2 separate regions of the Homo sapiens genome follow, and region 1 is linked to region 2. The links come from fine-mapping of genetic effects on gene expression. A gene starts in region 2. The other region holds a variant in brackets. All regions are shown on one strand. Distances are between the middles of the regions. Region 1 overlaps PXT1 (peroxisomal testis enriched protein 1). Region 2 holds the start of ETV7 (ETS variant transcription factor 7).

Region 1 (8,768 bases), 33 kb after region 2:
AAGAATTTGAAACCAGCCTGGGCAATATAGACCAAGACCCTGTCTCTACCAAAAAGAAAAGAAAAGAAAAGAAAAATAGCCGGGTGTGATGGAGTGCACCTGTGGTCCTAACTACTCAGAAGGCTGAAGTGGGAGGATCGCTTGAGCCCAGGAGCTGGCGGCTGCAGTGAGCTATGATCATGCCACTGCACTCCTGCCTGGGCAACAGACAAAGACCCAGACCCTATCTCTAAAAAGAATAAACAGAAATGGAAAAAAGAAAACTGACTGGACCCAAAGACCACCCTTATTCCTCCCCAAAACAGAGAAGAGAAAAATATGTATTTGACCTTGATGTGCATTGTCTTTCCAGCTGGCAAGGGTCCTAAACTTGTACCTAAAGAAAAAAAAATTCATCCTATCCTTCTGTAGGAAATGGTTCAAGTTCTGTCTCAGTCACTTTCTGACTTCCTGTTCTTAGGTAAGCCTCAACTTCTCTGTGCCTCAGTTTCCCCATTTTTAAAAAGGGACCTTCTGATCATTATGACTATTAAACAACGATGTTCATAAAGTACCTACTATACAATAAATCCTGTATTATATAAATGTCAGCTACTATCACTAGACCTGGTGATAGACACTATATAGATACTATAATGTAAACCAAGTTTATTGGTTTGTAACTTTTAGAAACAACTTACGGATAGCATGGAAGAGCTGACTGTGGCTGGAGGCCAGAATGCAAATGGTAACAACTTCAAAAATGTAAGAATTAAAAAATATAGGGAACAAATAGAAGGCTCCAGAAGACTGGGTGAGAAGAAGACATGGAAGTTAGTATCTTCATCCTACAAAATGGGAGTTCATGTGATATTGCTGAACATGGATCAAATAAGAAATAGGAGTGCAAATTATTTAAGTTTATGAAGACAACAGAGAGAAGTATTAAAATAACTTAACGGCCGGGCACAGTGGCTCACGCCTGTAATCCCAGCACTTTGGGAGGCCGAGGCGGGCAGATCACCTGAGGTCAGGAGTTCGAGATCAGCCTGGCCAACAATGATGAAACCCCATCTCTACTAAAAATACAAAAATTAGCCAGGCGTGGTGGCGGGCACCTGTAATCCCAGCTACTCAGGAGGCTGAGGCAGGAAAATCGCTTGAACCCGGGAGGCAGAGGCTGCAGTGAGCCGAGATTGCGCCACTACAATTCAGCCTGGGCAACAAAGCAAGACTCCGTCTCAAAATAATAATAATAATTTAACATCAAATATGAGAAAAAGAGAGGGTGCAGTATGCGCTAAACCTCATCTGCCATGTCACGGAGTCAATGAATGATATGAGTTTGATTAACCAAGAGATAGCAGCAGGCCAGGCATGGTGGCCCACTCCTGCAATCCCAGCACTTCGAGAGGCAGTGGCAGGAGGATCGCTTGAGCCCAGGAGTTTCGGACTAGTCTGGGCAACATAGTGAGACTTCGTCTCTACAAAAAAAAAAAAAAAAAAATCAAAAACTTAGCCGGGCGTGGTGGTGTACGCCTGCAGTCCTAGCTACTTGGGAGGCTGAGGTGGGAGGATCGCTTGAGCCCAGGAGGTCAAGGCTGCAGTGAGCTGAGATTGCACCAATGCACTCCAGCCTCGGAGACACAGTGAGATCCTGTCTCAAAAAAAAAAAAAAAGAAAGAAAGAAAAAGAAAAGAAAAAAAGAGAGAGAGGAATAAATGTAAATGCACATTATTTAGAACACTGGTTTGGTTCTGAATTCTGGCTGCACAAGACAATCAGCTTGGAGGCTTAAAAAGTAATTTTGTGGGCAGGGCGCGGTGGTCATGCCTGTAATCCCAGCACTCTGGGAGGCTGAGGCGGGCGGATCACAAGGTCAGGAGATCGAGACCATCCTGGCTAACATGGTAAAACCCCGTCTCTACTAAAAATATAAAAAATTAGCCGGGCGTGGTGGCGGGCGCCTGTGGTCCCAGCTACTTGGGAGACTGAGGCAGGAGAATGGCGTGAACCCAGGAGGCGGAGGTTGCAGTGAGCTGAGATCGCACCTCTGCACTCCAGCCTGGGCGACAGAGCGAGACTCCGTCTCAAAAAAAAAAAAAAGTAAATTTGTTAGTCTGGGAATGAGAATACACATAGGTTTGTTGTTGTTGTTTGTTTTTTAAGCTCCCCAGATAATTCTAACATGCACCCAGGGTTAAGAATCACGGATCTAGAAAACTGGAAAACATGACCAATTAAGGAATTTCACTGCTAGTAATGGAATGGTGGGATGGGGTGGAGGTGAAAAGGACAGGCTGGACACTGACTTTGTATTCATTCATTTATTCATTCATTCAACAAATAGAGGGCTTTCTATGTGCCAGGTGCTGGTCCAAGCCCCTTTTCAACATAAGCTCTCTGTACTAGTTGATTTGTTTCCATGAACCTGAGTTGCTTTGATTTAAAAAAAATTAATGCAACAAAAATACAGCATCAGTATACAAATCCACACTTTTAAATACATTGGGCAACTAGTGAGAACCACTTCTGCTGAGTGGAAAAGGCAGCCACCTACACAGAGTGATAGAGATTGAAAAAAAATCACCTTTCACCATGGGCAGCGAGGCTGCAAGCTGACTGGGAGAAGATAAAGGGAAGAGTGCCTGAGGGCACTGGAGAGTACCGACTCACTTCCACCGTTACACTCCCACTCTCCTCCAGAGGCCACTGAGCCACAGCTGCCAGCTGGGTTCAAAGTTCTCTGACAGTAATGGTCCCCAAAACTGCAGGATCCCATGACAGAGTAAAGAGTGGCAGGGGGGAGATAGTGTGGGGCAGGGAGGGCCAGGGCATTAATTCACCACAGCCAAGGGTAAGTCCCTAAGTCGGTGGCTTACGGCCTTCTGATCAAAATTGCAACCCTATTGCCTGTAATTTCAGTTTTCTATAAAATTGTATCTTGAAACATACACATACTCCTGAGATCCTCACTTCAAACCATTTTGAAATAACACCCTAATGATTAGTTGACAATCACCTGAAAAAAAGTGAGGACATCAATGAGGGTTGAGAGCTCACCCAGGAGAGAAGGTGCCCAGACAGGAATCAAATGGGAAGACTGAACAAATTTCACCTACTTCCAAATGGGCTAGGCCTGCCTGTGCCAATCAAAAGCATATTGATTTGTAACTATTAGTTTAACAGAATAACTAATCATAACTAATTATCACTTGAGAAATACAAACCCTAATATCTGCATCAGGAAAGTGAAATACAAGTTGGGTAAGTTTCAATAATGGACACTGGGAGAAATGAAGGAGCTACAAGGAAACCAACAAGCCTTGGGCAGCTCAGTGATCAGGGCAGTTAGGTAGGCAAAGGGGCAGAGGAGGAAGGAGACAGGAAGGAAAGCAGTGAGTACGCCAAAAGCAAAAGCATGTTGAAACTTGACATAATGATTATTTATATTTTGTGCCTGTCTAAACAACTAAATGGTGAAATCCTTGAGGGCATGTATCTATTTCATAACTCTAAGACCTAGCTCAGTGCCCTATACATAGGAAGTACTCAATAGATATTTGTTGATTAGGTTAGGGTTGTATGAAAAAGGCTGGCTACTCTGTAGCTTTATCTAAAAACAGCATTACCTTTCCATTTGTCTTGAAGTCAGCTCTCCTTTCATTTAAAGTTGTAAAACAGCAACAATAATGCACATTCATGTATTTAAAGCTCCCGGTTTAGAACCAGGCGAAATATTTGGCCTTTGATCAGCAATGGTCCCCAAATCTCCAAGACCCTACAACAGAGTCAAGAGTGGGAGGGAGAAGATAGTGTGGGAAGAGAGGGCCAGGGTCTCAATGCATTGATTCACCTCAGCCAAGAGTAAGCTCCTAAGTAGGTGGGTTTAGGGCTAGGCTTTTCACTGTACATCTTTTCATTTATTTATTTTTCTAAACAAGAAAATCTATTTTTTAAGCAAACACTTATATAGCACTTACAACATGTCAGCCACTGTTGTAAAAGCCTGGAGATACTCTCACAATTGCTGGTGGGAATTTAGATTGGTACAACCTATGTAGGGAGCAATGTTATCTATCTATCTATCAATCAAATTTTACAAACAGAAATATGTTTAAGGTTATCTGTTGCAGCATTGGTTTCAATATTAAGTAATTGGAAACAGCCCAAGTGTAAGTCAGTAGGGAACAGTTTAAATAAATTATGGTATATCCACACAATGGAATACTATGCCACTGTAAAAAACAATGAGGAAGTTATTTAAGCATTAATGCAGAAGGATCTCCAAATCATATTAAGTGACAAAGCAAGTAAGAATCATGTGCTTAATATGATACTTTTCATCCAAAAATAGGAACAAAAGTCCATATTCACAATTGTCCATGCTTGTATAAAGAAATTCTGGAAAGATACCTGAGAATCTAAGAACAATAGTTGCCTAAGATAGGGAACTGGGGGAGTGAGAACTGAGCAGATGGGGGACAAGAATGAAAGAGAGAGTCTTCACTGTATGCCTTTTCATATTCTTTATTTTTCTAGCCAAGAAAATATATTTTTTAAGCAAACATATAGCACTTA[C/A]AACGTGCTATAAAATTAAAATTGGTAAGTCACTTATTATTAATTCATAAATACTTATTCAAAATTTAAATTTAAAAGTATCTCAGGGCCAGGCGTGGTGACTCACACTTGTAATCCCAGCACTTTGGGAGTCCAAGGTGGGCGGATCACCTGAGGTCAGGAGTTTGAGAATAGCCTGGCCAACATGGTGAAACCCCATCCCTACTAAAAATACAAAAAAATTAGCCGGGCATGGTGGTGTGCGCCTGTAATCCCAGCTACTGGGAAGGCTGAGGCAAGAGGATCGCTTGAACCCGGGAGGCGGAGGTTGCAGCGAGCCAAGATTGTGCCACTGCACTCCAGCTTGGGCGACAGATAGAGACTCCGTCTCAAAAAAAAAAAAAAAAGTATCTCGGAAGTGTCATAATTGTATTGTGGTTATGCAGAAAAATATCCTTGTTCTTAGGATAAAGCAAATGGGGCAAAATTAAAAAACAACAACAACAACGACAAAAAAAAACCAAGGCCAGGTGTGGCTGACGCCTGTAACCCCAACACTTTGGAAGGACAAGGCAGGATCATTGAGCCCAGGAGTTAAGATGAGCCTGGGTAACAAAGTGAGATGCTGTCTCTACAAAAAACAAAAAATTAGCTGGGCCTGATGATGCATACCTATGGTCCCAGCTACTTGGGAGGCTGAGGCAGGAAGACCACTTGAGCCCAGGAGTTCGAGGCTGCCATGAGCTATGATCGCGCCACTGCACTTCAGCCTGAGCAACTGAGTAAGACCCTGTCTCAAAAAAAGCAAAGCAAAACAAAACTGATTAATCTGTGGGAAGGGTTTACGAATAACCACAGAGTTAATTTTGCCACTTTTCTGTAGATTTAAAATTTTCCAAGACAAATATTAGGGGAGAAAAAGTATCTCAGGAAAGTTTTTAAAACTTAAATAGAACTTTTTAATTTCTACAAACTTTTAAAAATATTTTAGAGAGTGTGTTTTGCTACATTGCCCAGGCTGATCTCAAACTCCTGGGCTCAAGCAATCCTCCCATCTCAGCCTCTGGAATAGCTGGGATTACAGAGGCAAGCCGCTGCACTAGCTTAGTTTCTACAAACTTTTTAGACTGGTTTTCAAAGCCCTTGGAATGTATTTCAACTGATTGGTCCAACCTCCTTACTCTTCTTTTAGAACCCTATGCTCTAACTAAATTGTATCTTTATCTGACCAAATCTTACCTCAATGATTTTTGAAAATTACTTTCTCTAAGATGCCTTTTTTGAGTCTTCCAAAATCATGTGATCTCTCACTACTTTGTCTACAGCACTTTTAGTTCTATTGAGATATATCATATCCTACGATTTGTTACAGTCATTGTATATTTTTCTTATACAAAACAACAGAGATAATGCATATTAGACTGTATATTAATATGTATTGTATATTAAATGTATATTGATATGTATATTAGATATGTATACTTACCTATTGAATAACACTGTCTTTAACAATCATTGTAGGTTACAACCAGGCACTCCCTAAGAACTTGGAATTAAGAGAACAAATGTCTCCTGAGAACTAAGGGGCAAGATTAATGTATGTATAGTGGAAATGGGTGAGATGGGCAGTAATTGGAAGGGGAGAGGCTCCCAGTTCTCCCTTGCACAAGCTGCTCCCTCTGTCTGCAACCTCCATCCCCCTTAACCCCTTCAGGTCTCATGTCAGGGGTTGCATCTTGAGGGAAGCCTTCTCTGATCTCCCTGCTAGGTCAAATCCCCCATTATGACATCTAGACCTCTCCTTAGCACTTATCACATTATATTTAACATTGATATGTGCAATTAACTACTGTCTGCTTCCTTTACCAGACCATACGCTCCATGACTGAAGGAACTGGTACTGTTTTTATTTATCACTGTCATCTCAGTACCTAGCACAGTGCCTGGAATATAGTAGGTTCTAGAATTTCTGGAATGAATGAACGAATTAAAAAAGAAAATGTATATCTAGAGGAGGAAGGGTTGGTGAGCCATCGAGGCAAAAAATTAAAAAAAGCAAAAGCAAAGCTTCCAAGCACTCTTAAAGAGAAAAATAAGCTAAACTGTACTCTCTATTGAATTCTACAATTATATTTCCCATTTATACTACTTACACACACATGCACACGCATTTATTTATTTAGCCCTTTCCCATCAGTAATTATTACACTTCTGCCCCTTGTCAAATCACTCCATTCCCGCACAGCAATGGTGGGCAGGGCCTCCTTTTGCTTTTACTCATCTTTGTTTCCCCAGGAGTTTCTAATTTCCCTTAAATGATGTGTATCAGGATGGTTGCTCTGGACTTCCCACGACCCTCAACTCTTCTAAGAAAATGTGGCTTTGAATTCCCCATACAAAAATTATGTATTTTCCCCCGAAGAGTTATGTTTGTATGTGTAGAGCGCCCCCAAAGAGATAAATCTTGGCTTCAGCGAGTCACATTCCTGCCTTGTGGTTTCCATTTTCAGTCTGTCTGTGTCACAGCCCCGGACAGAAGCCACTGAGGGGAGAGGTGGACCTCCTCAATCTCCTGCTTCCTCAGTAAGAGTTTTCCTCTGGACAGTACTTAGGCATTTTCTCAGGCTCCCCGCCAGAGAGCGCCGCCAGGTCCTCGGAACCACCTCGCGCACTTTAGCTGGGCGCGCGACCCGCGCAACCAGTGAGAACCCCGCTCCCGCCCTAGGCTTTCTGTGGTGGAAAAAGCGCGCGCGCGGACGAGCAGGTTAGGCGATAGAGGTCACGTGGGCCAGCTGTGGCCAATGGGGAGCGCACATGGCGACGCGGCCGGCGGCGGCGCGCGCGTAGCTCGCCTCGGGCTCCTGGCGGGAGCGGGAGTTAGGGAGGCCGGGTTCCCGAATTACACACACCAGCGTTATTTATTCTATCAGTCTTTGGTTACTCTATCTGGCGTTCTCGACGCCGTAATAACAAGTTCGTGCCCCCTCACACCGCCCCCTCATTCCGCACATCCCTCATTTCTTCAGTGGTATCATAAAGATGAAGGGGAGAAACGCGCTGCTGCCTGAACAGAAAGGCAACCCAGGTGTCCTGGGCCAGAAGTGGGAGGACATGGGAGACAGCACTTTATTGGAAGATCCCTGGTTTCTAATTGTTTGGCAGGCGTTGAAAGCACATTGGTGGCCCACCAGACTACCAGTCACTAATGAGATTTGACATATAACTCGCGTATGGTAAAACGGGAGTTCTAGGCATGAAAACAAGCATGTACGTTAGCTAGTGGGTTGTTAACTCTAAATCAAGGGCAGCAGCGTTAGTAACTTCACCTGCCTCTTCTTTTGAAGTGAAACTGTAATTAGGAAAGCATTTGAGGCAAAAGTAGCAACGCCCACAGAACGCCTCGGAAGACAGCGATCAGCTTCACAAGGAATCTGAGGATCAGGAGGTAGAGTGTGAAAACATACTGGAAAGAGTTTACAATAAAACATAAAATCTTAGAATAGTGGCGACGATTGCACAACGTTGTGAGTATACTAAAACCCTCTGTCCGTACACTTTAAAAGGGTGAACTTTATGTTAAGTGAATTACGTCTCTTAAAAAAAATTACAAGTTCCTAGAAGGTGTTCATAGGTGACACAATCTCAGACTTTGGGGAATAATTGTTGTTGACAACGGAATTAACAAATGAAGATTCAGGCGGAGCGCGGTGGCTCACGCCTGTAATCCCAGCACTTTGGGAGACCGAGGCGGGCAGATCACGAGGTCAGGAGATCAAGACCATCCTGGCTAACACGGTGAAACCCCGTCTCTACTAAAAATACAAAAATGAGCCGGGCGTGGTGGCGGGCGCCTGTAGTCCCAGCTACTCGGGAGGCTGAGGCAGGAGAATGGCGTGAACCTGGGAGGCGGAGCTACAGTGAGCCGAGATCGCGCCACTGCACTCCAGCCTGGGTGACAGTGCGAGACTCCGTCTCAAAAAAACAAAAACAAATACAAAAACAGATGAAGATTCAAAATTTCAGTCAATTCAGTGCTTTCTAAAAAATGGATACCAGGCCGGTCGCGGTGGCTCACACCTGTAATCCCAGTACTTTGGGAGGCCGAGGCGGGCGGATGACTTGAGGTCAGGAGTCCAGCCTGGCCAACACGGTGAAACCCCCGGCTCTACTAAAAATACAAAAATTAGCCGGGCATGCAGTGAACCGAGACTGTACCACTGCACTCCAAC
Region 2 (8,768 bases):
TCCCCTGTGATATCAGCCCAGTTCTGAAAATGGTCCTAGAGTCTGCACTGCCAGCTGTCCCTGCCCTGCAGCTGCGTCCCCCCATAGCTCCTGACTCACTCTGGCCTTGGGCAGACCCTCATGGCCATGGACCGGGGATGGGGAGGTGAGAATCCTCTTTTGTTCCCCATTTCCATACAGGGAAGCATAGTTGTGAATCTCCGTGAATCCCACTCCTCCATCCCAGTAGACCTCCTGACCCTTGCCACAACCCTGGACATCACGGTTGTCCTCAGAGTGGACTTTCCACTGCTTTACTACACATCTTTGTCAGGAAAATCAACACAAAAAAAGTGAGCTCTACAGGAAAATAACTTCCGTGCTCCTCTTAGCATCAACTCACAAGGCTAAACAAGATCTGTTTTGTTTATTCACTTCCTGCTGAGGCAAATCAGTCCTGACTACTAAAATGGAGGTTGGAGGTAGGGGAGGGAATGGGGTGGGTGACGGGGAATAAACATCAGAGAGATGGGCAGAGATGGAAACCCAGCTTCCAGAAATTTAGGAAACTGGGCTGAGATCACCCCCAACAGGGCTGAAAAGTCGAATCTTCATTTGGTGTCAGCAGTTTGCTTGTTTGGGATGCTGTTGACAGGAAAATGAGTCATTTGTCATCCCCTATCTTTTAAAACTGTCAGGTATTTACTAAGGGCCAGAACTGTATTGTCTGAATATTTGCAGATGTTCCAATAAATATGAGTCATGGAATCTAAGATGACAGGTATAGAAGATGCTGCTGGGGCCCTGCCCATAGGCCCTGCCTCTCACCTCCACACTCTGAAGGCTGCCGAATGCCCCATCTGACTCTGCCTTGGGCTTTTTCTGGCTGCAGGAACCCCTTAGCCAGTGTACAGGGTAACTTGGAAATGCTGGAGAGCCAATACCCCTGGAAACAGCATTCATGCTGTCATGGAAGGGAAGTGAGTGGATAATCCCCTTACCCACTGGTTGGAATAACTTAGGATTCACTGTCCCCAGAGATCCCCGTGGTGCTAACTGGACCAAAAGAACACCTTTGGGATTTCCTTCTCTTCTCTGTCTTTCCTCCCTACTCCTCACCAGTGTTTTAGGGTCTGCTCCTGGGGAAATCTAACCCAAGGCAACAGAACTGGTAGCTCAGGAGTTCTAATCTAGGAGAAAATAGGCCACGGTGACCTGCACCCTGAGTTATGCAATCAGAGAATAGGCTGCCTCAAGAGGGGAGGAAATGCCTGTCCCTAGAAGTGTGCAGGAAGATCTGGTGACCATCTCAGAAGGGCCCACAGAAGTGATCCTGCATTGTTTGGAGGTCCTGGTGTTCTTGATGAAGATCCCTAGTCATTCATTCATTAATTCATTCAATAGATATTTAGTGAGCCTCTGAGCTTAGGAAGTTTGGTCTTAGGGAAATAGGATTTCCCAGGGCTCAGAGGAGAGTTGTGGGTCTTGTGTTTGAACCTCACTATTAGAAAGTGTTTCTTAGAAGTTGTGTTAAAATTTCTAACCTTGGCCGGGTGCGGTGGCCCACACCTGTCATCCCAGCATTTTGGGAGGCCGAGGCGGGTGGATCACAAGGTCAGGAGTTCAAAACCAGCCAGGCCAATATGGTGAAACCCCATCTCTACTAAAAAATACAAAAATTAGCCAGGTGTGGTGGCACACACCTGTAGTTCCAGCTACTCAGGAGGCTGAGGCAGGAGAATCGCTTGAACCAGGGAGGCGGAGGTTGCAGTGAGCTGAGGTCACATCACTGCACTCCAGCTTGGGCAAGAGTGAGACTCCATCACAAACAAAAAGCTAAAGAAAACTCAGCAAAGAAACAGCAAACAGAGGGAAGGTAAGTTAATCTTGGCACCTGGCAAAAATTAAATTTTTAATTGACAAATTATAAATAATAATTGTATATATTTATGCAATACAAAGTTATGGTATGAGATATATATAAAATTTTGGCCAGACACAGTGGCTCATGCCTGTGATCCCAGCACTTTGGGAAGCCGAGATGGGAGGATTACTTGAGCCCAGGAGTTTGAGAACAACCTGGGCAACATAGAGCAACCCTGTCTCTTATTTAAAAAAAAATTTAATTTTAAGGGCCAGGTATAGTGGTTCAGACCTGTAATCCCAGCACTTTGAGAGGCAGAGGCGAGAGGATAGCTTGAGCCCAAGAGTTCAAGACCAACCTGGGCAACATACTGAGATTCCCATTTCTACTAAAAATTTTAAAATTAGCCAGTGTGCCTGTAGTCCCAGCTATTGGAGAGGCTGAGGTGGGAGGATTACTTGAACCCAGGAGCTGGAAGTTGAAGGTGCAGTGAGCTATGATTACACCACTGCACTCTAGCCTAAGTAAGCAACAGAGCAAGACCCTGGATCTAAAACAAAATAAAAATTTACTTTTAAAAACTCAGCTTTTCTCCTCCCCTCTACTTACGGAGTCTTCCTGGCAGCTTGCAGATCCCCCCTTCACCCAGCAGGTTAATTTGAGCTTCACATCTGGCTTGCACGTGGGTGCCTAGGGGAGGCATGGCTGCCACAGGGCTTATAGGAGAAATAGCCAATTCTCCCTCCTAGAGAGAGAAAAACCAGGACAGTCAAAGAAGAGCATCTTGGTGAAGGCTCAGCCATCTTTAAATGTCTTAAGAATTTTTTTGGAAGGGAAAGAGTGTTTATCTCCACCAGAAGACTGCATCAACCTTAAAGGTAGGAACCATGTATATCTTCAACTCAGTACCATCAACATTTTGTACCCAGTGGACACAATAAATGACATCCTTCCAATTCAAGCTTTCCATGCATGTGCCTAACTCCAAGAGGGATCCCCTGCCAAGACTTGTATGATTGAAATCTGAAAGCCTAGGAATCCTCACTGGATCCCTGGTGAGGACAACACAGGAAACCTGAGGGGCCAGGATCAAAAGACCTTAAATCAGAAATAAACAAATAGACCAGGTGCGGTGGCTCACACCTATAATCTCAACACTTTGGGAGTCTGGGGCGGGTGGATTACTTGAGGTCAGGAGTTTGAGACCAGCCTGACCAACATAGTGAAACATTATCTCTACGAAAAATACAAAAATTAGCCGTGCGTGGTGACCGGCGCCTGTAATCCCAGCTACTCAGGAGGCTGAGGCAGGAGAATCACTTGAACCCGGGAAGCGGAAGTTGGAGTGAGCCAAGATCACGCCACTGCACTCCAGCCTGGGCAAGAGAGCAAGACTCCGTCTCAGAACAAACAAACACTATTTTCAAAAGAGAAAAAGAAAGGATAAGGATACATTTCTGAATCCTAAGGTCTCACCACGGGAAGCCTGTATCTTTACAATTCAACAATCAGCATGGCCCCCAGAGATGACGGGGTTCATCCATTCAGATGAGAAAATGAAGAAAGTGGCAGGATTTTGTAGGAATAGGAAGCTCCTTCGGGCTCATGCCCAGCCACAGGCTGCCACAGCACGGAAAGGAAAAGTGAAACCAGCTCCATCAAGTCATTTTTCACTCTAGGATTGTCAAAAGCTTTACATTCATCTCTTGGGATCCGAGGAGAGATATCTGCCGAGAGAGAATTTGGATCGGAGCCAGCAAAGCAAACTCCAGAAGCCTTGGCTGCTGCGAAAGGGGATTCAACACCTTTCCGGGTCGTTCTCACTTCATTTCCAGCCGGTCCCCCTTTGGTGCTGTTTCCCAAGTAATCAGACCTCAGGGGTTGCCTCCTGGTGGGGAAAGGGAAGCTTGCCTTGCTGGAGAAGGGGCTCAAGGCACAGGACTTGCCTCGGACTTGCCAAGGAGGCTTGCAGGAGGCTCTTTGTCTACTCCTCTGTCCTCATCCAAGTAAGAGGAGCGGGGAATTCCGAGGCTGTAACTGCCTGGGAAACGCCAGCCACGGAGCTGCTGAGGATCAGACTCCTGGGTTTCAGCATGGAGGCCAGGGAAGGGTCTGATAATGGGTATGGGTCCTGGCGAGAGGGGAGTGGAGAAAGGCCTTGGAGTGGGACGGGGCGCCAGCTCTGGGGGCAGTCTCGAGGCACCTAGAAAACCGGCGAGTGGGGAGAGGCTGCTAAAGAGGGGCTCCCTGCGAGAATGCGTTCACCAGCTGTGAGGACCTGGCTGGCGCACGAACTTCCAAAGACCTCACATCTGGTTGGTGTAGGGGCGACCAGTGGTAAGGGGGCTGCGGAAAGGGCCCGCAGGGGCTGTGCGTGATGCCTTCAGAGCTGTGTATGACACCGAGAGAGTCAGGGGCGGTGACCCGCGTCTGGAGGTGGAAGGGGAAGTGAGTGAGGGATGGATGTGAGGTTTAGGAATGTGTTGGAAAGAGAGATTCCCGCCAGGTAAAAGGTCTGATAAAATAGGTTTGGAAATCTAGGTGGTGAGGAAAGGATGCGGGAGCAGGTGGCTCTGCGTGCGCGCTGCGTGTTCAGCCGCCAGGCTCTTACCTGCATTACAGGTGGAGGTGAGGAAGCCACCGGCTTTCTGTCTTGAGCGCTCCCCTGGCTGTGGCTGCTGGGGCCCTAGGCCCGCGCCCCGCAGTCCTCCTCCGCCAAACCCCTAACCTGGCTCCGAGAACTGGAAGGTCGCGTGGGAGGAAATCTCTTTCGAGAAGCGCCAAGGCGTGTGCGCCCGGGTCCTCCGCAGGCGGGCAGGCGCGCGAGGCGCTCCGGTAATCGCTATCCTTCCGGGAAACGAAAACGAAAGAGCGGGATGCGGTTCCACTTGCGCCGCTGCGGGCTAGGAGCAGGGCAGGGCAGGGCAGGGGCCGGCCCCGTGGGAGCGCAGCACCGGGGCGCTGCCCGCTCGCTAGCCTGGGAGGCGTGGGTCCTGCACACAGCCTCCAGCCGGCGGACAGTCCCTCTGGCGACCTGGCCTTGGCTCCCACTGGGGCAGAGCCGGGATTCTGCAGGATCTGAGGATCTAAGGGGACCCCTAGTCCTGAACTCGGAACCAACTGCGTCTCTCACGGTCCCGAGCCCAGGACCAGGAAGGACCCTGTGAGTCTCCGCACATAGGATAGGAAGGGGCCTCGCATGGTGCCTCTCCCTTTAGGGGTGAGTGACCTTCCCGGCCCCGATACTGTCTCGGCCTGCCGTTTGGCCCCGCTGAGGCCCCACAGGTCCGGAACCGTCGCACCACCATCAGAGCGGCTGTGCTCTCCTGAGCAGGGCCAGACTACTCGGAGATCCCGACTGACACCTTTTCCTGGGCCTCTGGGTGCTCCGGGGTTGGTGCCTGCCCACCCATCACCCTTTCCATCTGTCTCAGCTCCCCCTGTCTCAAGAGAGGTTGTGCGCATAAAAACAAACCAGAAGACACCGAAGAAAAGGAAAGAAAAGCATTAACAACCTTCTGCTGAAAATCTGAGGGTGTAGACGCTGTTACAAAGTAGGCTTAGCACTGGTATATCATCACAAGCTCTAGGCCAGCAATAAGAAACCAGTAAGAACAAGGCCAGAAACCCAGTAGGAAAAAAAAATGAGCAAAGGATATGAATAAACAGTCCACATAAAAGGAAATGCCAAATGGCTCCTGAATATACAAAAAGATGCCCAGGGTGCAGTGGCTCATGCCTGTAATCCCAGCACTTTGGGATGCCAAGGTGGGAGGATCGCTTGAGCCCAGGAGTTGGACACCAGTCTGAACAACATGGTGAGATCCTGTCTTTACTGAAAATTTAAAAAATTAGCCGGGCATGGTGGGGCTACACCTGTAGCCCCAGCTATTCAGGAGGCTGAGGATGGAAGATCGCTTGAGCCTGAGAGTTGGAGGCTGCAGTGAGCCGTGACTGTGCCACTGCACTCCAGCCTGGGCAGCAGAGAAAGAAAAAGATGCTCAGACAAACTCACTATTTTAAATGTGCAAATTAAAGTTATTCTGAGATAGAAATTTTTACCCATAAATTTGGCAAAAATTTAAAAGTTTACTAACATAATCTGCTGGAAAAGCTGAGGTAAAGTGGTGCAACCCCACAGCGGGGTCTGGCAAATTTACAAATGCATTTTCCTTTCACCCAGCAATCTGCCTACCAGAAATTTATTCAACAAATATCCAAAGTATACATAGTTACTTATTTAATCATGGTTTATAATAGCAAAGTATGAGAAATAACTCAGGTGTCCACAAAAGGAGGCTTGATAAACTAATGCACATTCATTTCTTTTAATTTTAATTTTCTATTTTTTTTTTTTTTTTAGAGACAGGGTCTCACTCTGTCGCCCAGGCTGGAGTGCAGTGGTGCCATCAAAGCCCACCTTAACCTCCAACTCCTGGGCTCCAGTGATCTCCCACCTCAGCTCCCAAATCACTGGGATTACAGATGTGAGCCACCACACCCAGCCAAATTATGTACATTCATTTAACTGAATACAATACAACACTTTATGGAGTTCTCTGTGGATCATGGCAAGCTCTCCAAGAGGCAGTATGGCATAGTGGATAATAATCTAGACTTAGGAACACCTGCCTGGTTTGGAATCCCAGCCATGTCATTTACTGGCTGTGTGCCCTTGAGCAAGTTTGTGTTAACCACTCTACTGCCTCCCTCTACTAACTACTGCCTCAATTTTTTAACAGTAAAAAAGAGCAAATAATAATACCTATCCCATAAGGTTGTTATGAATAAGTAAGTTAACTTTTATAAAACACCCAGAACAGTGCCTGAACACCCACGCTAAGTAAAAAAATCAAGGTACAAAACAGTGTGTATTACATGCTACCTCTTGTATGTAAATATACGTGTGTGTGTGTGTGTGTGTGTATGTATGTATGTATGTATTAATTAGTATTTATACAAAGAACCTCTGGAAGGATACATAAAAACTAATAAGCATAACTGGAATTTAGAGTAGAAAATAATAGAAAGGGTTTTTGTTGTAAACCTTTTCACATGGTTGTGATTTTTTTTTTTTTTTCTGAGATGGGGTCTTGCTCTGTCGCCAGGCTGGAGTGCAGTGGCATGATCTCGGCTCACTGCAACCTCCGCCTCCTGGGTTCAAGCGATTCTCCTGCCTCAGCCTCCCGAGTAGCTGGGACTACAGGTGCGTGCTACCACACCCACCTAATTTTTGTATTTTTAGTAGAGACAGGGTTTCACCATGCTGGCCACAATGGTCTCAATCTCTTGACCTCGTGATCTGCCCACCTCGGCCTCCCAAAGTGCTGGGATTACAGGCGTGAGCCACTGTGCCTGGCCTTGTTTTGATTTTTGAATCATATAAATAAAAACCTATTCAAAATAAATTTTAAAAAGACAGTTTTAGGGCTAGTCAGCCAGAACCTAAGTAATAATAGAAATAAATATGCACTGCCTGCGACAGACTAAAAAATGGAGACATTTCCCTTTGGAAGGACAAAGTCAATGCTATGTATAATCAAAGTCTACAAACCAATATGAGCAGGAATAAGTGGCTAGACCCTGCTGTGGGGTTCCTCCTTCAAAAAAGAAATATGCACAGGGGTTTCATGCTCAATAAAATAACAATATTTATTTCATTTTTAGAATTTTTTAAAATAACACTTCCCCTATGAAGAACTCAAGATACATATGTAAACTTTTAATTTATAACAACAAGCTTTCCTAATATTTATAATTCTTTTAAAGGAGGGGAGAGAGGGACTATGAGGTAGACAAAAAGGTAAAAGAAGAAGCATGCAGGTGAAAGAACTGCCTAACAGCGTGCAGGAGAGAATGAGTGAAATACATTCCACAGGCAAAGGGCCCACCAACCAATAATAGCAAAACCATCCAGCAATAGGAAAAGAGAAGTTTTTGCCTAGTGATAGATTCATAACTCTTTCAGGTCTTACATTCTTCTAGAAGGCAGGACTGTTGGCCAAGGACTAAGCACTCCCGATTTTAAGCAGGCATGCCTAAAAGAGGATGACAGAGCAGGGAAAGATACCTTCGAGCAGGGTCGAGTGGTATGGGAAAACACTGGAGTGGTGAAGGAAGACTTGAAGGGGGTCACAGAGGAGTGAGGGGATCAAAGGTGAGAAAAGAACGTAAATGTTGTAGAATCAGAGCCTGAGAAGGAAACACCCAACGGTGCTAGTGGTAGTAGTGGGGCCTCTAGGCATGGAAATGGGAAGGTAGATGAGATGAGCCATATGTTGAATTTGAGTATTAGAGACAAATGTTTCACTTCGATTTTCCAGAGAGGGTTGGAGCCAGGATTGGGGCAGGGAGGTGACATGTCACCGAGAAGGAGAAGCTGGCACTGCAGATCTGGACATGAGTGACAAGAGTGGAGCCAACAGGTCACCAGAGGGCATGGTGCCCAGGGAGTGGGCCAGGAGGTAGTGCCCATTTCTGTGGCCTTTAGTTTGAGGACGAGGTTCTCTTTCATTCCTGGAAGGAAATGTTCAAGGTTTCCTCACAAGGAGCCCTGGGACCATCCACAGCGCTGGTGTTTTCTGGGCAGCAAGGCTTCCTGGGGTCCTAATTACTCCTTGGGCTTTACCGTGATGTGATCGCAGACATCTCATAGCTAGCTCCTCCGAAGAGACAAATGGCTCGTGAACCCGCAGTTCTTCAACAAACTGGGTGTAGACCAACAGTGATGGGTACAAAAAGAGGGAGACGGAGAAGGGTGTTCTTCCCATCTGTCCCAGTGGGATTCATGTTTCTCAGAGGGTAAAAAGAAAACAGAACTTGACCACTTGACCTTTACTTTCCTTTTACAGCAAATGGTTGTTCCAGAAAAAATGCAGCAACACCTGAACTCTTCTAAAGAAAAAGAAGACAAAATGATCTAGTG

The links.
Region 1: its variant is fine-mapped to the expression of ETV7 in whole blood (INTERVAL, PIP 0.96).

The regions. Positions count from the first base shown.
Region 1 is chr6:36,416,125-36,424,892 of GRCh38, forward strand. All of the region lies in intron 3 of PXT1 (peroxisomal testis enriched protein 1), which reads right to left. Among named protein-coding and RNA genes, the nearest start is that of PXT1, 22 kb to the right of the region's middle. The variant C/A (reference allele first, on the strand shown) is at 4,561.
Region 2 is chr6:36,383,082-36,391,849 of GRCh38, forward strand. It overlaps ETV7 (ETS variant transcription factor 7), which reads right to left and starts at 4,588. Exons shown (of 8, transcript NM_016135.4): 1 at 4,455-4,588; 2 at 2,453-2,588. The coding sequence starts at 4,460. It overlaps PXT1 (peroxisomal testis enriched protein 1), which reads right to left. Exons shown (of 5, transcript NM_152990.4): 5 at 7,470-8,768. The coding sequence ends at 8,689. It overlaps ETV7-AS1 (ETV7 and PTX1 antisense RNA 1), which reads left to right and starts at 3,539. Exons shown (of 2, transcript XR_926758.3): 1 at 3,539-3,849; 2 at 8,695-8,742. RefSeq lists an enhancer at 3,659-4,482 and a silencer at 4,609-4,818.